Regions from separate parts of the Homo sapiens genome. Here region 2 is linked to region 1. Evidence: fine-mapped expression QTL. Tissue or cell type: left ventricle. Region 1 holds a variant in brackets; the other region holds the start of a gene. All regions are shown on one strand. Distances are between the middles of the regions.

Evidence for each region. PIP is the estimated chance that this variant, and not a neighbour inherited with it, causes the effect.
Region 2: it holds the start of SHISA3, and the variant in region 1 is fine-mapped to the expression of SHISA3 in left ventricle (GTEx, PIP 0.96).

Annotation. Positions count from the first base shown.
Region 1 is chr4:42,319,658-42,330,279 of GRCh38, reverse strand. All of the region lies in intron 1 of LOC105374428 (a long non-coding RNA gene), which reads left to right. Among named protein-coding and RNA genes, the nearest start is that of SHISA3, 73 kb to the left of the region's middle. RefSeq lists an enhancer at 8,954-9,003. The variant A/C (reference allele first, on the strand shown) is at 4,690.
Region 2 is chr4:42,392,767-42,403,388 of GRCh38, reverse strand. SHISA3 (shisa family member 3) reads right to left here and starts at 5,901. Exons shown (of 2, transcript NM_001080505.3): 1 at 5,056-5,901; 2 at 902-2,377. The coding sequence starts at 5,332. The coding sequence ends at 1,938. RefSeq lists silencers at 4,388-4,437, 6,078-6,157 and an enhancer at 4,964-5,853.

The DNA.
Region 1 (10,622 bases):
GATAAATACTTAGGGAAAGAAACTGCACAAAAGATTTACATCTTTTTTACTGCTACAACTTCTGTGTTAGGGAAAGCGGGAAAAGTTCCAAGGAAATCTGCCTCCCATCCTTTTGCGGAAATAAATTGTGCTTAGGCCCCAAATGGAGTAGCATTTCTGCATCGTTCTTCTCTCAGAACAATGTTTCTTAACCTTTGTGTGGGAGGGAGGGTCGTGGAGCCTTGTGACTGTGTGGACCCCCTAACTGAGGAAATGTAACACCATTTCAGGGGTGTCATACACCCCATTTAAAACTCATTCAGGGACCCACTAGAGATCCTTGTATTCTTTGAATAAAAGTGGCCCACCATTGAGTCAAAACTGGTGGGTGTTGTCAAGAGGTGATTTTACAGAGAGAAAGATGGGAGAGAAGGGAAGAGAGACTTTCCTGGAAGAAAACTCTGTCCTCCTCAAAACCTAGCCTTGCCAAGTCACATTACAAAGGTTAAGTACATGTCAATATGTAGGAATGACGTTAACAAAGGGGAAACTGGAAAAGCTCCCCCACTGTTTGGCTACTAGAGTGATTCTCCAATGGGGTCCAGTCACTGTCATTCCCTTCCCTCCTTGTGTAACTATAAGTGATTTAACAAGGTTTATAGTTAAAAATAATAGCAATAAAGGGTCCAGTGAACACTGGGATAGATGTTTATCTGTTGCAGACCTTGGGAGATGAATATCATGACTGCTAGCTGACTCATAAAGCTATAGCCTATAAGGTTAGAGAAAGCTAGCTTTATTTTAACACTCTCTACATTCATTAGCACATCAAATGTTGACAGTCCTAAGAGACGTGCGTCAAAATTCCAATTTTATTAGTGAAAAAGCTGAATTGAGAAAGCTTAGGTGATTCTCCAAGGTCACCCATAAGGGATAGAGGTAAGAATTGAACCCAGAGCTGACTGACTCCTAAGTCCCTGAACTTTCAGCTGCACCACTCAGCCAGGGAGCTCATCTTCAGCTCTCAAGGGAATGTGCCCATCCCAGAGCACACCTCCTGATTCCTAACCTCCATATGGTGCATCCTCTGGGAATGTCCCTTCTCTTAGTCAATGGTTTGACCCATCCAGATTAGCTGTATATTATCTCCTTCAGCCTCTATAAACACCCTATAAGGGCTGGGTGTGGTGGCTCACACCTGTAATTCCAGCACTTAGGGAGGCCGAGGCGGGTGGATCACCTGAGGTCAAGAGTTCAAGAAGAGCCTGGCCAGCATGGTGAAACCCCATCTCTACCAAAAATACAAAAAAAATTAGCTGGGCATGGTGGTGGCTGCCTGTAATCCCAGCTACTCAGGAGGCTGAGGCAGGAGATTCTCTTGAACCCAGGAGGCAGAGGTTGCAGTGAGCTGAGATCACGCCATTGCACTCCAGTCTTGGCAACAAGAGCAAAACTAAACTCCGTCTCAATAAAAAAATAAAAAATAAACACCCTGTGAGAAGGTATTATCCACTCCATTCTGCAGACAAGGAAACCAGGCTTGGAGAGATAAATTACTTACCCAAGGTCACACAGCTGAGTCTCTGACTCCAAAACTTGTGTTTTTTCCATCATACGAGTTGCCTTTTGCAAGAAATGGAGGAATTCCTTCAAGCAGCCCATCTCTTTAATGAGCATTAAGCATGTATTTGCCATCTGGGGGTTCGTGTTTTGGGTTTGTGCAAATCCCCACACCAGGCATCCCTGCAATCCCTGCAGATAAATCCACCAGCTCCAAAGTGCTTAGGTATTTGCTCCCCCAAAGTGTGACCAAATTAGACTGTGCCTGGCACCCTTTTACTCAGCAGGAGGACTTAGAGTGTGCTGAGCCTCCAAAAAGCAAGCCTTCAGTGCTCAAGCTGTGGCTGCTTTTGTAATGCTCTGTGCATCTGTCAGATGACACCAAAAGTTGCAGCTCTGAAAGCCAGAGCCACAGAAGGACTTCTGTTGGACTTTCTATGTCTTCACTCCATATTCTATCCAGTGGTAAACATGGAGGGACAGCAGAGTGTGATGATTAGAAAAGACTTAGAATGAGATTAGAACACTAGATTGCCTGGTAGCACCTCTTCCAGGCTGCGTTACCTGGGCCAAGTTACTCAACCTCTCTGTGCCTCAGCTTCCTTATCTATACAATGGGATAGATAGCACAGGAGGTTGATACAATAGGAGTTAAAATGTATAAAACACTTAGAAAAGGGTCTGTCTCATAGCTAGTGCTGGTTGGTTAAATAAAATTGCGTAAAGCTGGCAACTAGCTGCTCTGGCAGTGTGGATATTTTTTACTCTCTGAGTGTGTCAATCATCTGTGGTCAAGAACTCTCTTCAGTCCTACAGTCCCAAAAGGCAGAAACTTAATCTAGAACTTGGCACCCGCTGAGGCAGAGGCTGTATCCGGAGGTTCTCAGGCCTCCTGAAATGCAGCCCAGGCGAAGCCTACCTTTTCTATGGGCCAAGCAGTTAACACACATCTCAGCCCTGGTGGTGTGTTCTAAAAGGGTTTCATTCCAAACATCCCCTCATTCTAAGCCCCACAATGGCCATCCTATTTCAAGGGAAAACTGAGGAGACTGAAACCCTGATAGCCTTTGAGCCTGAGGTTCCCTGGGCTGCCTGAGAGCCATGATCTGTAAGGGCCTCTGGGAAGGCTGCGGGCATGGCCTTTCACCGAAGCCCGTCTCCTCCTCCATGCATCTGCTTGCTGTCCTGCTGACAGGCCTTATCCCAGGCAGGAGGAGTCCTCCGATGAGCATTTCCACACTTGCAGGGAAAGGTCACTGCCTTAGATTAACAACTTCTCATTACCCTCCCACCTCACCAGGCTCAAAAACTGCTCTGCTGTGGAGTTTAGAGTCTGTGGGTCCTGAGCTGGTTCCAACAGCACTGAAACCCAGGCAGGAAAAGGGAGCCAGCTATTCTTGAGAATAGGCATAGGGCTCGAGGCAAAGGCTTGTTTTAAGATGAGTTTGACACCAGCCACAAGTGCCCAGATGGAATCTTCTCAGGCATGGCCCCAGATTTGTTTTGTTTTTATTTATTTTTTGAGACGGAGTCTCATTCTGTCACCCAGGCTGGAGTGCGGTGGCATGATCTCGGCTCACTGCAATCTCCGCCTCCCGGGTTCAAGTGATTCTCCTGCCTCAGTCTCCCAAGTAACTGGGATTACAGGTGCACGCCACCACGCCAAGCTGATTTTTGTATTTTTAGTAGAGACGGAGCACCATGTTGGCCAGGCTGGTCTCGAACTCCTGACTTCAGGTGATCCGCCTGCCTCTGCCTCCCAAAGTGCTGGGATTACAGGCATGAGCCACCACACCAGGCCCAAGATTTGCGTATGACCTCTGAGCAGCCTATGCACAGAAGAAAAAACAGGGCAAGTTACTACTCCCATAATGCCGAGGTCTCCCAGAGCCCTTCTCCAGATTCTTTCTTTCTTCTTTCTTTGTTTCTTTCTTTCTTTCTCTTTTTCTTTCTTTCTTCCTTCCTTTCTTCTTTCCTTTCTTTCTTTCCCTTTCTTTCCCTTTCCCTTTCTTCCTTCCTTCATTCATCCTTCCTTCCATCCCTCCTTCCTTCCCTTGTTCCTCCTTCCTTCCTTCTTCCTTCCTCCCTTCCTTCTTTCCTTCAACATTCCCTCCTTCCTCCTTCCTTCCTCTGTCCTTCCTTCCTTCCATTCTTTCTTCATCCTTCTTTCCTTCTTTCCGTCCTTCCTTCATTTTTCCTCCTTGCTTTGTCCTTCCTTTATCCTTCCTTCGTTTCTTTGTCCTAACTTTCCTTCCTTCCTTCCGTCCCTCCCTCCCTCCCTCCCTCCTCCCTTTCTTGTATTTCTCTCTCCTTTTAGTCCCAAGCACTGCAACATATTTGTAAAAATAAAATTCTGGAAAAGTAGAGCAGAGAAGCGAGTTCTGAAGGGGAGAAATATTGCCATTGTCATGTGCAGCAACAGCCAGACCATGAGCACAGACAGAAGAAAGGTGTGAACAAGGTCAGCCAACATCAGACCGTCCCATGCACTTCACTGAGGTTGTCACACAGCCTGCCAACAAGATTGCGCAGGGAGGTTTTACTACAGTGCTACCTTCTCTCCACTTGATTCTTGGCTCTGATTACAAAACACATGCAGTGGTGGGCTGGGCGCCCATGGGACGGCCACTTAGAACTCCCTCACTCATCCCTTCAAAGAAAGAGTTTGAGAAAAATAAAGTAGCATGAAATCCCCCATAGGTATTTCATCAGCTCTTCCTTCTCGGCAATTTCCCTTTGGTTCCATTTTTTTTCCTTTATTACTCTTTTTTAGTTTATGTTGTCTTCCAAATGCTAAGCATTGCTTTGCTCCTATGAAGTCCAAACACAAAGGTAAGCTTTTATTTTCCTAAGAAGACATACTGATGAAAAGCTTGAAGGTTTGAATTAAACGTCCAGACAAGATTCCAAACCATTCCTTTTTTTTTTTTAGTATACTTGAATACTGTTTATTGCTTTAACTTATTTTTTTAATTATACTTTAAGTTCTAGGGTACATGTGCACAACGTGCAGGTTTGTTACATAGGTATACATGTGCCATGTTTGTTTCCTGCACCCATTAACTCGTCATTTACATTAGGTATTTCTCCTAATGCTATCCCTCCCCCTGCCCCCGAGCCCATGACAGGCCCCTGTGTGTGATGCTCCCC[A/C]CCATGTCCAAGTGTTCTCACTGTTCAATTCCCATCTATGAGTGAGAACATGCGGTGTTTCGTTTTCTGTCCTTGTGATAGTTTGCTCAGAATGATGGTTTCCAGCTTCATCCATGTCCCTGCAAAGGGACATGAACTCATCCTTTTTTATGGTTGCATAGTATTCCATGGTGTATGTGTGCTACATTTTCTTAATCCAGTCTATCATTGTTGGACATTTGGGTTGGTTCCAAGTTTTTGCTGTTGTGAATAGTGCTGCAGTAAACATACGTGTGCATGTGTCTTTAGAGTAGCATGATTTATAATCCTATGGGTATATACCCAGTAATGGGATGGCTGGGTCAAATGGTATTTCTAGTTCTAGATCCTTGAGGAATCGCCACACTATCTTCCACAATGGTTGAACTAGTTTACACTCCCACCAACAGTGTAAAAGCATTCCTATTTCTCCACATCCTCTCCAGCACCTGTTGTTTCCTGACTTTTTAATGATCGCCATTCTAACTGGTGTGAGATGGTATCTCATTGTGGTTTTGATTTGCATTTCTCTAATGACCAGTAGTGAGCATTTTTTCACGTGTCTCTTGGCTGCATAAATGTCTTCTTTTGAGAAGTGTCTGCTCATATCCTTTGCCCACTTTTTGATGGGGTTGTTTTTTTCTTGTAAATTTGTTTAAGTTATTTGTAGATTCTGGATATTAGCCCTTTGTCAGATGGATAGATGGCAAAAATTTTCTCCCATTCTGTAGGTTGCCTGTTCACTCTGATGGTAGTTTCTTTTGCTGTGCAGAAGCTCTTTAGTTTTATTAGATCCCATTTGTCAATTTTGGCTGTTGTTGCTATTGCTTTTGGTGTTTTAGACATGAAGTCCTTGCCCATGCCTATGTCCTGAATGGTATTGCCTAGGTTTTCTTCTAGGGTTTTTATGGTTTTAGGTCTAACATTTAAGTCTTTAATCCATCCTGACTTAATTTTTGTATCAGGTGTAAGGAAGGGATCCAGTTTCAGCTTTCTACATATGGCCAGCCAGTTTCCCCAGCACCATTTATTAAATAGGGAATCCTTTCCCCATTTCTTGTTTTTGTCAGCCAAATCATCCCTTAATTCTTGGTCTCTACAGATCTAACTTGGCAAACTATCCATCAGGAATGCATTCATTCACTTATGCAGTCAGTCACTTGTTCAGCAGGTATTTATTGAATATCTACTGTGCCTCAGGCACCGTCTAGGTTCTGGAGGCACAATTGTCTGCTTTTCTGAGACAATGACAGAAATGTTCTGGGAGTGTACGTTTAAAAATGTATGATAACACGTAGAAGAGACTCTATTTTTATGTTGGGGAGGATTCCAGATTAAAGTATTGTTCCTAATTCTTTACACTTGCCTGCATTTATACCTTTGTCATGGCTTCATCATGGCTTTGGGCTTGATTATGTGACATGCTATGGCCAGTGACACGTGGGCAGAAGCGAGAGGAGGCCAGTTCTGAGCCTAGGACTTCAGAAGCATCACATATTTCCACTTGTCTTCTTGCACCTTTACCATGGCAATGAGAACATGCCCTGGCTTGCCCACTGCTCTAAGGAGTGGAGCCACCCGGGCCTGCAGTGGCACTGCAGCCACCATGTCCTGGAGCAGAGCCACCCAGCCTTTCAGCAGAACCCCAGTCAACCCATGGACCTGTGAGCAGTCATAAGTAATTATTGTTTTAAGCCACAAGTTTTGGAGTGGTTTATTATTCAGCAATATCAAACGTTTACAGAAATTGGTACCACAGCAAAATCCTAAAATATGTGGTATTGGTTTTGGGCCTAGGAGGCAGATAGAGGCTGAAGAAAGGAAACAGTTATAGGAGGCAGGAAAATTGTGACCTATGTTATGTAGTGACAAAATATCTGGTAAAATTGTCACCTGAGCTAACCTGAAAGATAGAAAATGTGCCTAATGAACCTATGAACTTGAGCAAGAAGATTGCCAGGCAGAAGGTTACAATTGGAAGACTTCATCACATATGATATAGTATAGCTTAGAGGAGAACTGGTTAGCTTGCAAGCAGAATTTAGAGGGAATACACAGAGTCCAAACTAGCTGGGTTGGAAAATAGAACTGTTTTTTATCCCCAGCCCTTCGAGCCAGTAAAAGACTCCCAAATAAAATACAGTGCAGAGACAAAGACCAAGTCAAGGTGTGGCCATTAAGATACAGCTTGGAAACAACCAACCCAGGGCACTGCCAGTTAAGCCAAGTCCCCAGGTTAAAGACCAGACTCCAGGAGAAATAAGATAGTACCCTGTCATTTCTCAAACTTTTGCGTGCTTCAGAATCATCCAGAGGCTTGTTAACACAGATACCCAAGCACCACCTCCAGAGATTCCGATTCCACAGTTACAGGAAAAGGCCCAAGAGCTTGTACTTTGAACTGGCTCCCAGGTGATGCTGATGTTACGTCTTTGAGTAGCCCTGGTCTAGGAAAGCCTTCCAGCTGTGCAACCAGGTACCTAGAAAACTTAAAGGCATAGTCCCACGACAACCTGTTATACCCCAATTAATAGCAACTATGGAGTGACAGACACACAGAGAGGTATATCCCAAATGAATTTTGACACATGGGTAGACTAGAATAAAATACGTTAAAACTCATGATGGCATCAGGAAAAATAGCTAATGCCTACCCGGCTTAACACCTAGGTGACTATGGCTCACATTTACCTATGTAACAAATCTGCACATCCTGCACATGTACCCCAGAACTTAAAATAAAATAAAGACAAAAAAAACTCATAAAGGATTTTCCCCAAATTTTATTCCTTCTGTTTTCTTGTTTGTGCTGAGAAATTGTGTCCTTATATGTAAGTAAATGAAAATGGAAGGAATTTGGTCTCGTCTACATCACTCAGTTCTTTGAACCTCTTCTTAGGAAAATGCTAAAATCACAGAATAAGCATTTATCATCTTTAATTTTAAAAGTTCCATCAATTTAAAACTCAAATAAATCCTATTACAATTTTTTAAAATACGAACAATTAGAAACCATCAGACTTGCATAAAGGTTGAACTCAGACATCATAATCATTCACTTTCTCAATGTACAAGTCTTTGAAAAAGACTTTCTCAAAAGTTATGCATTAACCACTAAATATACAAATTATATTTTCACTGAAAAACACCCTGTTTAATCTGCCATCCTCACAAAGATTTGGGGAAATTAAAATATCAATTTCAATACACTACTACCAAGCTAATATTTGTTATACATTAGTTTATATATATTTTGGTCCAAATCTTGAATTACTTATCCGTAAAACTATCTATAAGGAAATATGTATGGGATACATTCCTATTCAATCTTTTTGACCACATCTTCAAAATTGTTTTTTTAGATAGTCATTAAGAAAAATTTGTTCCTTTAGCTCACCTTTCTAGGGCAACAAAAAAAAATGTGTTTTCTTGCCACTTTTAAAATTCCTTGTTTTTAATTTGTAAAACTCAGAAAGTTTTTTCGAAAGTATTATTGACAAAAATACTTCTGGCCTTGAATATAAAGGACTGTGGCTCTTTGAAATGTAAAAAGACCTCTGAGCCCCCAGCTTTTTCCAGGCTGAAAGCATTCTGAGAAACTTGCTCAGATGAAAAAAAGGGCATTTTTCTAAAGCCCGTTTCAGAAGTGGTGGTCAAGGCAGATGATATAAATGGAAGAACAACCATCCTTCCATTTCTGTTTATACTGGGGTAAAGTATTGTCCCCAATTCTGTATCCCTACTGTGTCATGGCCTCATCATGAGTATCCCTTGGCTTTAGTTTTGGCCATGTGACTTGCTGTGACCAGTGGCATGTGAAAAGAAATAGGAGAATGTGAGATGGAAGTTTTTATTTTGGTTATTTCCTTCCTGTTCTGCCTCTGAGTGTTGGGTATTTAAGGTGCAAACGACTTGCCATTTTAGTCTACAGGTCTCCATGACATCCTGCAGATCCAATCAAGCCCTTTGGGACCCTGGGTTGGGGGTAAGGACATTTGCATGTTAGAGGAAAGTTATGATCAAAGTAGTGCACTGTGGTGGATTGACTTGTTGGTCTTAATTCTTCTCTCGTCCCCATCATGCATCCACATCCTTGCTATGGCCTCATACTGCCCCTTGAATTTGGAGTTGGCCCTGTGACTTACTGTAACTAATTGCAGGTATGTCTCAGTGAGTCCAGACTTTAAGAAATGTCATGTTTCCACTCACCCTGTTGTGCCTCTGCCTTTGTCGTGAGAACATATGATGGCAGATACGCTTAAAGAAGGTTGGAGGCCTATGGAACAGAGTCACCTAGCAGACCCAGCAGACCCAGGAGACCCACAAGCCCAAAGCTGGGCCAACCAGCGCAACCCTGCCTAATCAGCTGAACTCCACGTGACCCACAGATATATGATTGCTATTTTCAGCTACCAAGTTTTGAAGTCATCTATTACACAGCAAAGGCTATCTGACACAATGGGGGAGAGAGCTTTCCTGCAGAAAGCATCAACTAAGCCGTTAAAACTGGAGCAGAAGTGGCACCTAAGCAAATGAAAAGATGTTCAATGGCATATGTCATTAGGGAACTGAAACATTAAAACAACAAGGAGACACCACTGCACACTGTTATAAATAAAGTTTCGGTGCTGCATTAGAAATAGCACTCAAAGGCCCTGTGCAGTGGCTCACGCCTGTAACCCCAGCACTTTGGGAGGCCAAGGCGGGTGGATCAAGACGTCAGGAGATCGAGACCATCCTGGCTAACACAGTGAAACCCTGTCTCTACTAAAAATACAAAAAATTAGCCAGGCGTGGTGGCGGGCACCTGTAGTCCCAGCTACTCAGAAGGCTGAGGCAGGAGAATGGCGTGAATCCTGGAGGCGGAGCTTGCAGTGAGCCGAGATCGTGCCACTGCACTCCAGCCTGGGCGACAGAGCGAGACTCCATCTCAAAAAAAAAAAAATGCAAAAGAAAAGAAAAGCAAAAAAAAGAAATAGCACTCAAATATAAAATTTTCTTTTTAATTCTCAGCAAGGCAATGTACTTCTATAGAAGGGTGTGCCCTTTCAGATACAGCAAGGGCAAGCATGCACTTGGACAAGGTAGGGGAAGGGGTTCTTATCCCTGACTCACATGGCCCCTGCTGCTGTGTCATTCCCCTATTGGCTAGGGTTAGACCGCACAGACAAACTAATTCCAATTGGCTGATTTAAAGAGAGTGATGGGGTGAGTGGTTTGGCAGGAAAACTGGTTATGGCAGAGCAGGAAATTGGAATGAGTCAGGGTGGAGAATGAGCAGGTAATCGGAATGAGTCAGGGTGGAGTAGGTAATCGAAAAATGTTGCTTTACGAGGAAGTTAAGTTTAAAAGTAGAAGGCAAAGAATTGAACATACTGACAAATTTCTTGGAAGAGAAATTTAGAACTCATATCTAACAATTTGTCTTCTTGCATTTCCTTATAGCGCTTTCTCTTCAAACTTCTTTAACATGTCTTGGCTTAGTTGTTCTGCTTGATTTTCCAAAAGAAGAAGCTTCTCTGGATAAGGTGGAGGATAGTTAAGGGAGGTTTTAGTAAGTGCCGTTTTTATGAGCCTTTGCACCAACCCACAGATGCATGGTGTGACACAGCACCTGACAAGAATAAGTACACCCATTATGGCTGCGAGGGAAGTAAGAATCGAGGCTATTATTCTTTTCCATCTACCAAACCACTTTTCTAGCCATCCTGTAAAGGGGTCATTTTCCCCTGAGTTGTTGGCTAACTCATTGGACAGAGCAGTCAGACCTTGCAATGCCTTTGTTATACTTCCATCAGGGGCAGTGTTGTTTGGGATGAAGATACAACGTTGAGTTTTAATCACGATGCAAACTCCTCCTCTTTCTGCTAATATCATGTCTAAGGCTATCCTATTTTCCCAAGCCATCTGGCTAG
Region 2 (10,622 bases), 73 kb before region 1:
TTCGAATCTTTAAAATAGGAATTGTAATACTTTTCTGTTGGGGTTGTTTAGAGCATAAAATAAGTTAATACATACTAATACTTAATGCTTGGCTCATAATAAGAGCTTTAATAAGGTAACCTTAAAACCATTAAAAGGACCAAAATACTACAAACATAAATAAAACTAGTCTAATCGTATAGGAGTGCGCCCAAGATTATGTGTATAAATGTTCATCCTTTTACATGCAGCTGTTTCTTTCCTTAATTATTTTGAACAATTTGGGATACCCGGAAGTCAGGCCACTTTTAGATACAGGATAAAGCAGGAGACTAGAAGTCAGAGCCCCTCTGCCTTTAGACTGAGCAGAGGCCGAATATCTTTGAACTTGTTTCCTTAACTAGAAAATGAAGAGACAAGGCCAAACAACTCTCTTAGGACAGAATTCTGCCTCTAACTAATTGTGTTTGAAAACTGAGAGTGACATATGATAGTATGAATTCCTATAAATCTGGGCTTTCAAACCACACCTGCAGGGGCCAGGTAGGTAGCATAGCAAAAATAGATGGGCCAGGTGGGGAGACCAGGCAGGAGGCTGGCAAATGGCAGGTGTCCTGTCTGAAGAGGATTGACCTGACCCCAAGGCAGTGCAGGACCCCTGGTGCCACGTCCTCTATGTCATGAGAAGCCAGAAATCCAGATTCTTATGAGAAACGTCCTAATGATGAATTCTCTACAGGCCAAACACATCGGAGGGCTGTAGACTGAGACCTCCATAAAAATTCACTTCCTTTGCTGCTTTCACGAGCCCTGATATGGAATTTTTTTTTAATTTTAAAATATGAAGTATGTGTTAAAAACATTTCCTTTTTTTTAAAGAAGGATCGCTAAAGAGATAAAATGAATCACATTAAAATTTAAATAGAGTTCATGAAAATATAAAGTGTTTTATTTATTCTAATCCAACAAGATATATGCCCAAATATATAGTCATCAAACATAAAATTCAGGGGCACTGGAGATATATATAATATTAGATGATTATACCAATAGCTAGACTTTGAACTCCAGTTATTATTAACATAAAAATTACAGTATGACTACTAAATAATTAGTACAGTCAATGTGGTAAATACATTAAATTACAAATATTTACATTTGAACATAGCTCATTTTACAAATAAATGTTTTAAGCCCCAACTGTCCAACTTTCACTGAAACACTAAATGTTGCTGAACAAAAAGTCTGCAATAAATACTCCCTCCAGTGAGTGGGGGAAATGATTTTACATACACTCTGTGTTACAATGAATGTCTGAGTATATATTTAAAACTTTAAACTCCTCATGTGATTATTGAAACCTTGTATTCTGGAAAAACTCATATTGTAAACAAAATTTAGTTATTTATTTAAAAAGTAAATGTTCTCATTATGCTAATATTATTCATGGTTAGGTTACTCCCGAAATCATAAATAGATTTTTCACTGCCCCCTTAAGTTTACCTAATAGTTAATTTTTTAAGTGAACCTTTGATAATTACAATTAGGTATTTTTCTTTGCTTATTTATGAATATATTCCTATCATAACTCAATGAACAACTTATATGAAAAAGAAACATGTAGCCCTTTTCTAAGCAATATAGCTGAATGTCCAGTAAAACGTTTTTAGCCAGTTTGCAACTTTAAAGTCAAACTGCTGCATATTTTGAATAAAAGTAGCATAGATTGAAATGTAATGATCACATGTTTGCAAAACCAGAAAACAGTTCTCTGGTTTAGCCTTTCTGTGATTGGAGACAGGAACTTTCAAATTAGAAGGTGCTGTGTTTTCCTAGCATGCTCCTCCATGACACTGATCAGTTACAAGGGAAATTTTCTCAGAATTGCATGTGGCAATGGGAGCAGGGCTCCACCTGTCTGCCATCTGACTGAGTTGTGGATTCATGGCCTGGGCGTGTCAACTGGAACTGAAGTCTGGACAGCTCTTCCCAGGCAGTGGGGGCTCCTGCTGGAGGGGGTAAGCGAAATACTGGGGTGACACCAGGAAACCAGATGGCTGAGCCAGGTGGATTGAGTGGCTGGTGGTGTATGGCGGGGGCGGTGAGGGCACCAGGCAGCCCGGCTCAGCCCTGGCAAAGGAGAACCTGCGGATGGAGCCGCCTGTGGAGCTGGAGCTCGTGGCTGTGCTGGACTGCCGGGAGGGTGCCCTGGGGCTGGTGGAGGTCAGGATCATGGGCAGGGTCTCTGTCTGATAGCTGCGGAGTGAGAAGCGGATTGGCTGCTGCGAGGGCTCCTTGGGTCTCAAACAGGTGCAACAATAAATAGCCACTACAGAGCCCAGGATGATGAACGCAATGAAGATGGAGCCGACGATGAGAAAGGGGACGTAGACAGGCTCTAAAAGGCAAAAACAGACATAAACAGATGCTCAGATGAGGATCTCCCAGATTCTGAACTCTGCTTGGGCAGCTGAGGGTTGAGAGGTGGGAGACTCAGTTACTATCACTGCTGTCAGCTCAGTTTTTCAGAGCTTGTTAATGGTAACCTCCAAAATGCAATGCAAACCGTGATGATGGAATATTCTCGCTACTCCTAGCAGGGAGGAAGCAAACGGATACCGTAGCCTCTGTTAGCAATTAACTATCATATTGCACATCTGGAAGTCAGAAAAAAAAAACGGAATCTGTTCTCCTGTTCAGGCACTAGAGGGAAAGGGTGAGTTTTAGGGGTTAAAATAATTCTAGGTTTAAATGCAGGTTTTAGTAGTTTGATCACGGTGAGCAGTAAGAGACTTGTCCCCTCTCTTAGGCTGGCAATCCATCTCCCATTCAATAATCTCCAGTCTAAGCAAAGGGAGCCAGGCCTATTAAATGAGATTCCCCTCTACACACAGACCCAGGATTTTATGAGACTCCAGAAAGAACAGTATAAAGAAATTCACAGAGGGCCCCAATCGACTGTGTCTCCTACCATACACCACAAATTGCCAGCTCTGGCTGCTTCTTTCCAGGAAAGATTTGGAATACCCACTCCAGCTGCCGTGCCTCTCAATTCCCATCCAAGCCTGGGAAGTCAGACTGAACTTTAGATAGATCACCAGGCAATTCTTGGTGTCCACGGCCCAGACTTTCTATAAAAGCATCCCTCAAACAGAGCAAACTCCAATTTCCTTCTCTCTCTACAAGGCAGACATAAAATTCCCAAGCCCGGAGGCATCCCCTTGGGCAGTTCTCCAGGTCTCTCCCCTGATAGAGCCGTGCTAAGACGCAGCCTCCAGCTTACAGGTAGAAGAAAGAAAGCCTGCATTGACTAAGTCCCTACTGTGTGCCTGGCTCTTTCTTATTCATTATCTGATTAAAGTCTCTTGGAGACCCTGTGAGATGGACATGATAAGCTCCATTTTCCAGATGTGGAAATACATCAGAGAAGTTTGCGCATTCCCACAGACAGAGCTAGTGAGGGACAGGTAACTATCAATTATTTGTGGGCTACTAGGCGTAAGCTCTTCTGTGTCCCTCCCATTCTCCCTTGTTTACTAGCACCAGCGTGCAAGGCAAGGCAAAGGTAAGTAACTACCATTTACTGAGCCCTGCGCTCCAGCATTCATACACTCTCACGTCACCAACAACTTAACTCCTTTGAGAGCAATATGCCCACTTTAGAACTGAGAAGAGGTATCCAGAGCAGTTAAGTAACTTGCCCAAGTTACACCGCCGGCAAGTGACAGAGCCAAGGTCCATCAGGGTTTGCCTGATCCCAGACTCAGTGAGTGTGGAGACTGCCTCTCCCTTCTGCTGTCCTCTGGCATCCGAGCCGAGTAGGGAGCGCAGAGGAAGCCCGTGCTGCAGACTGGGCAATTGCACTTACTCCCAGAGGGCAGCTGGGTCCCCCAGGGTGAGCGAGTGAAGCCGTGGGGAAGAGTCTATATTTTTCTAACAGGCCAGGAGGGCCTAGATTTCCCTACTTTCCGCTGAGCATCTTTTCTCCAGAACTACTTCCAGAATCCTCTAGATTGGAAATGTTGACCCCCAACATTCACCCTCTAGTGGAGCACTAATGGAGGGCAGACTCCCCTGTCCTCTGGGTTATCAGTTTGCGGGGAGGGGCCGTTGGGGAACCCTTAATGATCTCTCCAGCCTCTCTTCCCTTTCCCGGCGACCTTCTCTTGCGGGCTCCAGACCTCGGCTCTCTGGAGTCCTGGGGTGTCACCCGCTCTCAGCTCCGCCCGCTTCTCCGGTTTCCCTGGCCATAAAACCCTCGCCTCAAGCTCTAAAGCGTTTCCCTGATGTTCCGATTCAGGTGGAAAACTTTTTTTCAAGGTGTAAATTTTCTCTGCTGGGGTCGTGATTTATTCCGCTCTGAAGTCAGCGGAAATTTGACCCGTGTTTTCCGAAGTGAGAATAGGGGGCGGGGAAGCCCCTTCGACCCTTGTTTCTAAATCTCCACCTCGAAGACCTGGGCATTTCTGAAAGGCGTGACAATAGGGGGTGGGCCGGAGAGGGTAATTCGATGCAGAGAATTGAAAGGAAGTCTGCAGAACGGGGCCGTGGCTTAGAAACGCTATCATTAAGACAGAAAAAAAAAGTGACTGGGGTTTCTTAGCCCTGAAGGGCTGCAAATGAGCGCGCGACAAGAGTCGCGATTCCCTGCATTCGGCACTTCCCGAAGCTCCCGAAGTGACAAGGGCGAGCAATGGGACACCCTCGGCCCCTCCACCAAAACCCAAGTCTACCCTGGCTTTACCCGCACTACCCTTCTCCCGGGAGCTCCAGCTGTCTTCCCCCCGGCTACCAGGCACAAGCCCCGCGCTCCTCACTGTCCCTGGCAAACTTTCCCTGCGGGCCGACCCGCAGAGACCGCAAGTGGCGGGAAGCGGGACTGCAAATGAATAGAGGACCATGATCTGAAACGCGACCACCCACTCATCCCTTGATTCCCCCACCCGGCCGCGTCCCCCTGGCGCACAGACCCAGGAAGGCGCATAGACCTGCCTGGGTCTGTGCATCCTCCCGCGCACACATGCAGCCGCCGCCGTTAGGCGGGCGGGGATATGTCCCCGAGGGCCCCGCACTTACGCGCAGTGATGCCTGGGTGCTCCAGTTCGCGGCGGTCGTTGGTGCAGCCGCCCTGCTCCAGCCTGGCGTCGGCCGCGGCGCAACAGTAGCGGAGCGCGCAGGAGCCGCAGCAGATGGTAGCGTCCAGCGTGTCGAAGTCCTCTGGGCACTGGAAGCCCTCGTGGTAGTTGCCCTGCACGTCCACCCAGCCGTGGCAGTACTCTCCGGACTGCTGGGCGCCCGCCGGGCCCCAGCGCAGCCAGCCAAGGAGAAGGCAAAGCGCCAGCAGTGCCCTCATCGCCACTGGGCTCCCTGGGCGGCCGGGAGCAGGACGCAGCTGGAAAGCGAAGGGCTGAGCCCGGGCTCAGGGCGCACAGCGATTCCGCCTCCCCAGGGACACGTCGCAAGCTGCTGGCCCCGGCGGCCGAAGCCAGTCCTGCGTGGGATAGCAGGGGCCGGGGAGGCGACAGGGGCTGCACTACGAGTTCCGCAGGCCGGGAGTCAGCATGGTGCGCGGGGCGAGTTGGCGAGGGCCTGCGGGAGGCGCCGGCAGAGGCAGTTGCTGGGGCTGTCGCTGCCGCCCTTCGCCCGGCTCATAGCGCTCCCCGCGCGAGGGGCGCGCCAACCCCCCGGCCACCTCCCTCCCCACTCCTCAAGGGAGCCATAGCGCCCGGGGCTGCCAACTCCAGCGCCGCACAGAGTCCCAACCTGTGGCGATCGCCGGGTCCCGAGAGGAGCCGGAGGAAAAGAATTTGTTCCCCACGTGCGAGTACCCCAGACAGGCGGCCGCTCAGCCCCAGCCCCTATCTGTCACAGGAGCAGGAGTCAGCTCCGCCGCGGCCAAGTACAAACGGCCGCGGGGTTGCTGACAGCTCTGCCCGCAAGGCGTCTTTTAAAAAGGAAGAGGGAGGAGGAGACAATGAGGGTTAAGAAAGAGTCCGCCCTCCCGGATCGCGCCTCTGGAGCTAATCACAGCGGGTGCGGCGCGGGCCGAGGGTCCTCTGCGCTTTCTGGTTCGCGCTCCATCCTCCGCCTCCCCCCGGCCACCCCCGCCCATGCCGCTCCCCCAGGACTTGACTCTCAACCTGAAGATATCAGACCCTCCCCTCCCCCGCCGCACACCCCAACTCTCTCACAGCCCGGAAATCTCTGCAGAGTGACGTTGAGGGCTGCCGAATTCCCGCGTTTATCCACGCACGTGGGCGCGCGAGTGGAGACGCTGGATTTACTTTTCAATGGATATAATGCATGAATGCGGTGCAGTCATTGAAGTTTGTCGAATCATCTGTGCCCTGTTGCACAGACTCAGACTCGTTCCTGGGATACCGCTTCTAAAGGTTCAGGACCGAGAACATGGTTTTTAGGTGTCGCCAACATGTGCTGAGCTTTCCACCTACGTTTCCACTTTTTCTGGGAGGAACGGCACATTTTCACAAGCACACACACACACACACTCGCACTTTTTCCGCCGGCTGAAGGATTGCCGGTCACCTCTGCCAGCCAAGGCCAGCTCGCAAAACCTCAAAGAGCACGACTTCTCCGTTCACGCCCGCAAAGGAAATAAAGGAGCAAAATTAATGATAATTGAGCAGAACTGAACTTCTGTTCAGGGAAAGAAACACATTTATTTAAATGATGTGTCCCCTGTGGGCTATTTTCAGGGGCACTGCTCCGTTAGCGGCCTAAGTGCCTTATGAAACTGGTGTTATGTGAAACCTGGGCCAAACGCAAGCATTTATTTTGACTGCATCCTGAACTTCCAATCATCGTCTATTGGTATGTGTGAATATGTTCGGTGTATCTCGGCTTATTTGTCAAACAAGCTGCATACCCGTGTCCCTGAGTTAGATGTCGGCAAGTTGAGTGAAACAAAAGGAACAAAGTGTTCTCAGCTCCAGCGACACAAGGTGCGCGGTCAAACGCATTTATCACGTTCGCAGCTTCCTGATGAACCGAGTCGATTCCGGAGAAACTTTTTTAAAAATCTCCTATTAAAACGATTTCTTTTTTTTTTTTTTTTATCTAAGTTAAAGTATATTCCAATTAAATAATTACTTCTGATTTCTAATTTTAGGTATTGGGATTAGCATTTAGTTATGTGGCTGCTGAAAATACATGTCCATTTCACACGTTAAGTGGGACCGTGTAAATATTTAACTTTATTGCTCTCTTAGAGTTACATATTTCTTAGGACAATACGAAGCTATTAAGTAAAAACAAATTAAGTTGGAGCTTTCAATAACAAACAATGAAACAGTTTTTTAGTTAAATAGTTTAAGCATATGGGAAATTGTTTTGCAGAAATTTCTTAGATATTGGGTTTTTTATTTACAAAAAAAAGGTCTTGCCAGACTTAATCTTTTTTTTAACTCTAGTTGTTTTTTAGGAGTGTTGTTTCAATTGTATATATATCCTGAGCAATTACAGGAAAATGTCACTTAGAAACACAGCAAAAATGAGATATAGTGATTATAATCAGATGATAAAAATTATGACATGTTTACTGCTAATAACTTTCCCAGAACCACACCTTTTAATATTAGTTTTTGTTAAAATTTAGAGGAATTTCATTACGTCATAACTGCATAAAGTTCTGCTGCAGCAGCAACCTTTGCTGGTCCCCCAAGGGTCAAGTTTCTCTCATTATCCAGCTGTTCTTTGATAGCATTAATATTTTAAGGAGTGATTTGTTGGCACTTACCTCCCATTAATTACATTCTCCATGCCACAGTGGGATTCTTTTTCCTGGAGACACCAGCTATAATTAATTCCCTCATTCAAAGCTCCTGTCTACTTGACTTATTTAGAGGGCATTTTACCCAAATTTAGTTGGATGATGTTTACTAATGGAAAGTAACCAAACCTCCAAATTACTTGATCCTTCGTAGATCTGACTTGTGTGAACAGTAAACAACTGTGCACCATGCTTCAGATCTAGGTCCTCATCCTAAGCACCTTTAAAACCATTACAACAATCAGCTTCAGGAGTTTGCCTGGGCGAGGGGTTGGGGGGAGGCAGTGATATGTTTGGTTTCTTGTCATAGAAGATCTCTGCAAACTTTCCATTGTCAAATTTTAACTTCAAAACTGATGCCCTGAGAATCCTTTTCACCAACAGAAAGAGAATATTCACCTCTTTTTAGATATATAAACATCCAAAGTTTTTGTTATTCTGTTACTAGTTTAATAGTAAAGGAAGATGAAAAAGTTCTCATAGACACCCCTGAAAGACTCTAGGGGGAAGACATAGAGATAGAAAATAAAGTCCACAATATCTGGGGTATTATGAAGAGGTTTTGGAAATTCTTTATTGTTTCTTATCTCAGTAACACAAATTCCTTATTTTGGTCAAGAACATAATCATAAGAGATCATTTCCCCAGCCTACATACATTCTCTTGTGGCCCTGCCTCAAGGAAACTCTGTAGGAAGTGAGTTAATTGACATGATGTCTGGACTATGCTTTAATAAACACCAGCAAGAAAGAAAGAGAGGAGAGAAAGGCAGAAAGAAAGGGAAAGAAAAGAGGGAGGGTAGGAGGAAAAAGAAAAGATAGGTGAGCAATAGGGATGAGAAGATGGGCTAGGCAGAACTGAAACACAACTGGCAACATGTAGATAACTGTAGCTGGCTGAAGGGAACTTATAAAATCGAAATGCAACTCTTTTTTTCTTTTCTTTTCCTTTTGTTTGAGACGGAGTCTCACTCTGTTGCCCAGGCTGGAGTGCAATGGCATGATCTCGGCTCACTGCAACCCCCATTTCCTGGGTTCAAGCAATTCTCCTGCCTCAGCCTCCCAAGTAACTGGGACTACAGGCACCCACCACCATGCCCGGCTAATTTTTGTATTTTTAGTAGAGATGGGGTTTCACCATGTTGGCCAGGCTGGTCTCGAACTTCTGACCTCAGGTGATCCGCCCACCTCAGCTTCCCAAAGTGCTGGGATTACAGGCGTGAGCCACTGCGCCCAGCCGATGCATTTAATATTCTTAGGACATATTTGCTGACCATATTTTTAAACTTTGTTCTGGCCAGACATGGTGGCTCATGCCTATAATCCCAGCACTTTGGGAGGGCGAGGAGGGAGGATCCCTTGAGCTCAGGAGTTCAAGACCAGCCTGGGCAACATGGTGAGACCCTATCTCTACTAATAAAAATATAATTAGCTGGGCATGGCGGCACATGTCTGTAGGCCCAGCTACTGGGGTAGCTGAGGTGGCAGGATCACTTGAACCCAAGAGGTGGAAGCTGCAGTGTGCAGCGGTGGCACCACTGCGCTCCAGCTTGGGTGAACAGTGATGCCGTGTCTCAAAAAAAATAAAAAAGAAAAAAATTGTTCTGTTGACTTATCTTTTTTATATTCTTTGGAGCTGAGTGAATGATTTGAGAAAACCAAAAGCAGGGAGGTGAAGGGCCACATGGATCAGAAAGGTTTGGGAACTAAAATATACTGAGGAAAAAGGAGGAAGGCTAAAGGAATGCAGAAAACAAAAACAAAAACAAAAAAGGGCAGTTCACTGGACTATGGAAGAGTCTACTCCAGCTCATTTGCATTGGCCTCAGAAACAAAATGAAAAACAAGAGTTCCTCAACCCTCCCTCAAGTTTGCTTGTGCAATGACTTGTTTTCACTCTCCTTTAATTCAGAAAAAAACACTTTAATTTAATTTTCCTTTAATTACCTTGCCCATGACTTCATGGAATTCTCTTCCTTGGATCGCTTGTTGTAAATCTCTTACTCCAGGCCCCTCTCAATCTGAGTTACTCGAAAGGTGTTTTCTCTGAAATTTGCTGTGGCACATGTTTACCCTAGAGAATAGCAAGGTGCCTAGAAGGACACTCTCAGACCTGGGCAACCCAGCCCCAGGCCAGGCCCCTCTTCCTGCCCTGTGTTTCGGGCAGCCTCAGTCTCTTCATTTACCAAAAGAGGGGCTTAAGCTAGGGCCCTTAGAGAGTGTTTCTCAAAAGGCCATGAAATACCTGGGAATCTTGTTAAAATGCAGATCTGGCCGGGCACAGTGGCTCTCACGTCTGTAATCCCAGCACTTTGGGAGGCCGAAGCGGGCGGATCGCCTGAGGTCAAGAGTTTGAGACCAGCCTGGCCAACATGGTGAAACCTCATCTCTACTAAAAATACAAAAATTGACCGGGCGTGGTGGCGTGCACCTGTAACCCCAGCTACTCAGGAGGCTGAGGAAGGAGAATTGCTTGAACCCGGGAGGCAGAAGTTGCAATGAGCTGAGATCACGCCACTGCACTCCAGCTTGGGTGACAGAGCAAGAGTCCATCTCAAAAAAAAAAAAAAAGCAGACCTGACTCTCACAAAGTCTGCAGTGGGGCCTGTGATTCTGCATTTCTAATGAGTTTCCAGGTGATGCCAAGTGGCTGCATTGAGGACCATACTCTGAGGCCCTCTGGCCTTCCTCTGCCCTGTCTGCAGCCACAGGGGAAAGAGTGAATAGAGCCAGAGGGCAGTGCCCACCCAAAGCCCATTCCCTCCCTTTTTGTACCACTCTCTGGGTCCTGGATCCCAGCACTCCCTACTCAAAGAGGCCAAAAGTTGCTTCTAGGCTGCACAGAAGCCTCTTCC